Homo sapiens: one gene and its partner. The protein of the gene in region 1 purifies or fractionates together with the protein of each later gene. This does not show direct contact. Each region holds a gene or a part of one and is shown in the gene's direction. Other genes may lie near its edges.

Region 1 (3,825 bases):
CCGAGCTAGACCCTGTCTCAAAACAGAAACAAAAACAAAAACAAACAAGAAAAGATAAAAAGAAAACTGAGAAGGACTATTACATCTGAAACTAATCACTACCCTAAAGTTTAATTTCATGATAGGTGGCTTAATTATTTCTTTGTAAAATGTCTCAGCACCCTGATTTCATGAGATGTTTTTTAACTTACAATGTTTTCTGAAAATTTTTTCTGTAGGTTTCAACAGCATGTGCCTTTCCGGGAAAGTAAACTGACTCACTATTTTCAAAGTTTTTTTAATGGTAAAGGGAAAATTTGTATGATTGTCAATATCAGCCAATGTTATTTAGCCTATGATGAAACACTCAATGTATTGAAGTTCTCCGCCATTGCACAAAAAGTAAATATTTATTTTATTAAGCCTCTTATTATTAGAATATTAACAGTTTTTCTTGAAATAAATATTTTTTACTTAATACTGTAAGCCTAGGAAATAATTGAAAATTAAAAAGGTAAATATTTAACCAAGTAGGAAGACATGAGAAAGGATTGAAAGTTGCCCATGCTAGGATTAAAATGACCTTTAGTAATAAGAATTAGTAATAAACATCAGTTATAAATTAATGAGTATTTTTGGAATGAATTGTCTGCTCTGCCATTCATCTTGTTCATTTGGTACTTCTGGGTGATTGGAAAACCCTCTGCTAAGATTAATACTGAACACTTAGCCCAGGAAGATAGATTTTTCCTCTAGTTTACATGTGTAAGTAGCTTTTTTCCTATCAGAATGTTCTTTTAGGGATGGTGATTCCTGTTTGTATGTTTGTTTGAATAGTTTTTCCTTAACACTTGAGTGTTCATTTGACTTAAATTTATAAAATAATCATTTTCTAGTGGACAGTTCTTGTCTTTTCTGTTTTAAAAGTCACATTGAATATTTTAACAGGTTTGTGTCCCAGACACTTTAAATTCCTCTCAAGAGAAATTATTTGGACCTGTCAAATCTTCTCAAGATGTATCACTAGACAGTAATTCAAACAGTAAAATATTAAATGTAAAAAGAGCCACCATTTCATGGGAAAATAGTCTAGAAGATTTGATGGAAGACGAGGATTTGGTTGAGGAGCTAGAAAACGCTGAAGAAACTCAAAATGTGGAAACTAAACTTCTTGATGAAGATCTAGATAAAACATTAGAGGAAAATAAGGCTTTCATTAGCCACGAGGAGAAAAGAGTATGTATTAAGAACTCATACTTCTATGCTTGTCTTCTTATTCTGAAGTTAAGGTTAAATCTTAAGGCTCTCTCTCTTCAGTTTTTTTCAACAGTACACTGAAGTTTTTGTGTTCAACTTTATATTTTGAAAAATTTCAAACCTATAGAAAGACTAGTACAATGAATACTCATTTATCCTTCACCTGGATTCTCCACTTACCATTTTATGAGTATGTGAATACACATCTTTTGGTCTGTACAATTTGAAAATAAGATCCAGACATAATGACACCTTACATCTAAATATTTGAACATATTTTTCTAAGAACATGGGCATTTTCATCATGATCACAAGACCATGAAATTTTCATACCCAAAAAATTTAATATTGATACACTAATATAACCTCGTATACTGTTTGTATTGAGAGTTCCCCAGTGTTCCAAATATGTTCTTTATAGCCACTTTGTTTTTGTCTACAGCCAGAGTTAACACATTGCTTTTGATTATTGTGTTTCTTTAATCATTTCTAATCTAGCACTGACATTTTTGAAAAGTGGGTCCTAGTTTTCTCATAGAATACCTGCAATTTAGATTTGTTTGATTATTTCTTCATGATTTAGGTTTAATACATTAGGGAAGCTTTTTATGTAGGTTAAGTTGTAAATTTTCCATTGCATCACACCAAGAGCCACATGATGTCTGATTTTTCCATTCTTAGAGATGCTAAGTTTTGCTCACTTGGTTAAGATAACAGTATTTCAGATCTGTATTGCAAAACCATATTATCTGTGGGGTGTTACTTATAGACCATGTGAGTATCCTTTCACTAAGTGATTTTATGTATTCCATCAGACCTTTATTTTGCAGTCTCAAGTACAAGTGTTAAAAATATCTACCAAGTACCTATGATCCCATATCTTCAAAAACACTAATTGTTTGTCGTCTTGTTATTATGATAAATAAATAAGATTTAACGGTTGTTTTTTTAGCTTCTGTCCAATTATAGTATTTATTTATTTATTTATTTATTTTTGAGAGAGGGTCTTGCCCTGTTGCCCAGGCTAGAGTGCAATGGCACGATCTCGGCTTACTGCAACCTCTGCCTCCTGGGTTCAAGCGATTCTCCTGCCTCAGCCTCCTGAGTAGCTGGGAGTATAGGCATGCGTAACCATACCCAGTTAAGTTTTTTTTGTATCTTTAGTAGAGATGGGGTTTCACCATGTTGGCCAGGCTGGTCTCGAACTCCTGACCTTGCGATTGCCCGCCTCGGCCTCCCAAAGTGCTGGGATTATAGGCATGAGCCACCTTACCTGGCCACCTATTCCCATCTTTAATTGGCCATAACTCCGTGAGTATAGATGGAGTCCTCTTACCAGTGTCCTACAAACACTAGTAGACCTGTGTTCATGGGTGTGCTTTAATGGTGTTGACACATCACACATCACAGTACTCTTCTGGATTGCAGAAGTATAAGTAGAACGATGATGTATTAGGCTAAATACTCTCATTTTAATAATTTACCTTCATGTCCCTGAAAGCAATTATTGAACATATGTTTGGAAACAAGAATGATAGCTTCAGATGTAGTACAAGTCCCACTTTATCTGGTCACTATGTGATTAGACCGTGTTACTTGGGCTTCTGTAATGTATTAAATAGTACCTCCTCAGTGACGAAAGGAGCCTTTAATAGTCTAGTTTGGCTGGTGCAGTGGCTCACACCTGTAATTCGAGCACTTTGGGAAGCTGAGGTAGGAGGATTGCTTGAGCTCAGGAGTTCAAAACTAGCCTGGGCAACATAGTGAGACCCCATCTCTACAAAAAAGTAAAATTAGTTAGGCATGATGATGCACAGGTGTAGTCCCAGCTACTTGGGAGGCTGCAGTGGGAAGATTGCTTGAGCCCAGGATTTCTAGGCAGCAGTGAGCCATCACTGCACTACTGCACTCTGGCCTGGGTGACAGAGTGAGACCTTGTCTTAAAAACAAAGAAACAAACCAAAAAACCCAGTTTTTTTTTTTCATTTCAAAGTTGAAATTTTTGTATAATGTTGGTTAGTAAAATTTCTGAAATTACTAGAGAAAAATATTTAATGCTATAGTTTATGATGGATTATATAGTATAAATGCTTATCATATAAGATTGACTAAATATTTTAAGGAAATTCATCAAAATGTCTAATATTTGACATTTAAAAATCAATATGATTAGGTGTTGGCATGCTTTATTTTTTTCTTCTAGAGACAAAGTCTTGCTCTGTTACCTAGGCTGGAGTGCAATAGTGTAGTTATGGCTCACTGCAGCTTCGAAATCCTGGGCTCAAGTGATCCTCTTGCCTCAGTCTCCTGAGTAGCTGGGACCACAGATGCATGCCACCACCCCTAACTAATTTTTAAAAATGTTTTGTAGACATGAGGCCTTGCTCTATTGCCCAGGCTGATCTTGAACCCTTGGGCTCAGGCAATCCTCCTGCCTTGCAAAGCGCTGGGATTACAGATGTGAGTCAATGTGCCCAGCCCTTTCTTGACATTTTAATTAAAGGATTGGGACTTTTAAAAACCATTATAAAATACCTTGGTATTAGCATACATATACTTAAATTCGTTTAGCTGTAATAGCCAGCCTAA
Region 2 (3,825 bases), on another chromosome or scaffold:
TCCTGTCTTTTAACTAAAATATTGACGCACTTTCTGTATGTTTGAAAAATATTTCATAAAATTTAATCCACTTAAAGAAACCCACTCCTTTCCCCCAAATCTTACAGCTAACCACTGCTCTGAATTTGGTGTTTATTATTCCTATGTATTTCTGTACAGCTTTATTACACATGTGTGTTTCCTTAGACAGTGTATAGTATTGTTTTGTGTATTCTTAAACTTTATATAGATGGTACTGCATGTATTCTTGTTCAGCATACTGTTTATTTTATCCCCACTCAAAATCACTTAGCAGTGTGGTTTCATGAATTGAGTTTCAACTCAATTCATCAGTGTGGGTTCATGTAGATTTAGGTCATTTATTTTTACTGTGACAAGTTAGTACATTTTAGGTCTATACCATATTTATTTCCCCTTTGCTCTCTTGATAGACTTTTAGGCTGTTTCCATTTTTTTTGTTATTACAAACATTATTACCGTTAAGTATTATTGAACACAAGTCTTTGTTTTAATTTTTGACACTGTAGTTAACCTGTGCTCCTTTTTCTCTGTTCTTCACATTTTTGTCTCGGCCTTCCTCTAATCGTTTCATTATTTGAGCTAAGGTACCATTCTTTGTCCATTATACTTAACAGTACAAAACTGTAATGGGCACTTTTCCTCGAAGGCTCTTTTTAGTAATCTTTACTTTAGTTAACTTTCTTTGCTTTTTTTTTTTTTAAATAAAAATATCTTAAAATATAGAAATATCTTGAACATATTTTACAGATATATATTATTTTACTTGTAATTCCATGCATGACTGCAGGGATAATTCACGTGTACCCTTTCTCTTGGGAAACGTTTCTGTGTTGATGTACATTTGATTTAGCTAATTCTGTATTTTAGTGTTTGTTTCCTTTAAATATTTTCCTCTAAATGTAGTGCACTTTTTTCATTGCAGTTTGGTGGGTAGGAACATGAGCTCAGAGTTAAGATTGCTTGGATTGGAATCCGGGCTCTACTTTTTAGCTGTGTGTCTTTGGGCAGCGTATTTAATTTCTATGTCTCAATTTCTTCATCTGTAAAATGGAGATAATAGAAATCTACCCGTAGATTGTTGTGAGATTCAAATGAGGTGTCTGGCATAGTCATTACTCAATACATATTAGCTATTTTTATTAGTTTTATTTTTTGTTAGAGTATGCAGTATTTTCTAAGCCTACTCAGTTTGTGGTGTTGCCTTCTTTTTTGAAGCAGCATTTTAACACAGACATCTATGCCTCAAGGAAATGTGTGATGTTTTATAACTGTTAGTGGAGATTGGGAAGAGATACTGTAAACTGTAGCAAACCATAAGTTGAGGTACATTAACTAGATTGTTATATTTTAATATCAATAATTTAGGATTTGGTTGGGCATGGTGGCTTATGCCTTTAATCCCAGCACTTTGGGAGGCCGAGGAGGGCGGATCACCTGAGGTCAGGAGTTTGAGTCCAGCCTGGCCAATGTGGCATGAGTCCAGCCTGGCCAATGTGGTGAAATCCCGTCTCTACTAAAAATACAAATTAGCTGGGTGTGGTAGCGGGTGCCTGTAATCCCAGCTACTTGGGAGGCTGAGACAGGAGAATTGCTTGAACCTGGGAAGTGGAGGTTGCAGTGAGCCAAGATCATGCCATTGCACTCCAGCCTGGGCAACAGAGGGAGACGCTGTCTCAAAAAAAAAAAAAAAATTAGGATTTATCGTGTTTCAATTTTTTTGAAATACGTATAAAGCACTTTGAAAGTGAGTTGACATGGTGAAATTCTCAGATAATTACCAAGGGTCTACTCTTGTTAGTTTTAAATACCTTTTGTAATATGACCCTGATAATGATTCAGATGGTGTTTCTAAGTATATTATCCTATGTCATCAACCTTGTGTTGTTCAGTGGAGAAGGAACCATTGCCATCCATGTATGTAAAGCTTCATAGGTAAATTTGAGCGAGTGACTTAACCTTTCTCAGCCTTCCATTTCAATTTCTGTAACATAAAGATTTCAATTCTTACCTCACAAGGTTATCATGACTTATGTTAGTTGCTTCCTTCATCTCTCTGGCTCCCCTGTCTTCTCTTGTAACTTCCTTTTTTTCTGTTTTCCCTATGTATATTCTTTCTTCCTCTTTATCCCTTCTCTGCCCTTCACAAGTAGTTTTTTGGTAAATGGTAACAAGACATTCTGAACCAGTGTGTGAGTGAACCCATTATATTAATAAAAATACACATTATTTAAAGGGGACTAGGAAATGTTAATTCTGTAAGGACAAGAGGATTTAGGCCATATGAAGTTACAGAGGAGATGCTGTAAATGTTAAATGAGCAGTATAAAGGACAGAGAGGTCATGTTTTGCCACAGTAGCCAGGGAATGGTCAGCTGAGCAAAATGAGACTAATGTTAGATTTGAAGAAAGATTTGTGAGGAAGGTATTCACATAGGATGTCCAGTGGGCAGTGGAGTTTGGAAGATTGGCAAATAAAACTGAGCCATCAACTGCTTGGGAGGACTCAGGAAGCTGTGAGGATAAATCACATCCCATGGGGAAGAAAGGCACATGGACTTGGAGGACAAAAGCAATTAAGACCTAGCGTAACCTCTTTATTTATTGATTAAACTCTGAAAGTAGTTGTTGAATGAATTAAACCTTCTAGGAATAGAAAGGGAGAACTAGCAGCTAGCAAATGGAGAGAATTGAGTGGCTCTGAGTTGTTGCAGGAGGAGCTTTGAAGGTCTGGCCCGAGTTGTTTGTAACCCTGCCGTTGAGACTGGTGGTGTGGCATTGTCTGTGCCATTTAGTCTGACTGGACTTCTGGTTTTTTTTTTTTTTTGGTCTGTAATCCTTTCTTGCTTTTGGGGGATGGAGAGGGATCTGCTTCATCACTGTTCTTTTTACCTCCTTTTCCCCCTCCTTTACTTGACTCAGGATTTTTGTTACCTGTGCCATATTTATTTCTTAGGTGTCTTTGACTTTATCAGTTAGCTTTGTGCATTTCCCCATGTATTCATTGATGTGTTTACTACCTGGAATTTAATGGGGTGTTTGCATGAGTCTCTTCCTCTTTTGACATCTCAATAAGCAAGATTCTCATGGAAACCATCTCAGAGGCAGTGGGCAGTAAATAGATGGAGTGAAAGATGAGGCAGAACTGTTTCTCTGCATTCTATATTGAGATGTACAATTGTTTAACAAATAATTACAAAAGAAAATGAGTGCCATGAGAGAGTGCCCTAAGGGGTCAGCGGATGGGTAGAGAAGTTCAGGCTGGGGCTAGGGCCAGTGGAGGTTTGGGTATCAGAGAATGCCTAATCAATTTAGATGCTAAGAGATAACTAGGCTTTGAATGTATGCAGAAGAATAAAGGACATTCCAGGTAGAGCTAACAGGGCAAAATGAGCAAAGGCAGAGAAGACAGGTAAGGGAGACAAAGAAGTGGATGGAATTGATTTGTTTGTAGTGTGCGAAGTAGAGAGTTGGAAGGTGAGAGTTGAAAAGTAAGCTGACTTCAAGTTGTGGAGAGTCTTAAGTACTTGGCAGACGAGTTTGGAATTGTTTTTTATTCCTTCTTTTTTTTCCCCTTTTGGACAATGAGGAGGGAATTGAGATTCTTGAAGAGAGGATTGATGTGAAATACGGGTTATAAGGGAGTGGCAACGTCACACTGGCAACATGAATGAAGGATGCATTGATGGAGGAGGGGGAGAGGGGACTAGAGACAGAGGAATAGTTAAGGATACAGTTGAATTCTGCCAGGTGACAGGAGTAAGGACCTGAACTGATAAAGTAACACGTGAGAAAGGGCAGGAGGCA

Evidence for each region.
Region 2: the proteins of KIF20B (region 1) and ACSL3 purify together in Homo sapiens (affinity purification with mass spectrometry; one large-scale study listed by BioGRID and IntAct). This does not show direct contact.

What each region holds. Positions count from the first base shown.
Region 1 is NC_000010.11:89,718,492-89,722,316, forward strand, and holds part of KIF20B (kinesin-like protein KIF20B), read left to right. Parts: intron 1-218; coding exon 219-381; intron 382-927; coding exon 928-1,215; intron 1,216-3,825. UniProt on the Homo sapiens protein: Plus-end-directed motor enzyme that is required for completion of cytokinesis. Required for proper midbody organization and abscission in polarized cortical stem cells.
Region 2 is NC_000002.12:222,867,274-222,871,098, forward strand, and holds part of ACSL3 (fatty acid CoA ligase Acsl3), read left to right. Parts: intron 1-3,825. UniProt on the Homo sapiens protein: Acyl-CoA synthetases (ACSL) activates long-chain fatty acids for both synthesis of cellular lipids, and degradation via beta-oxidation.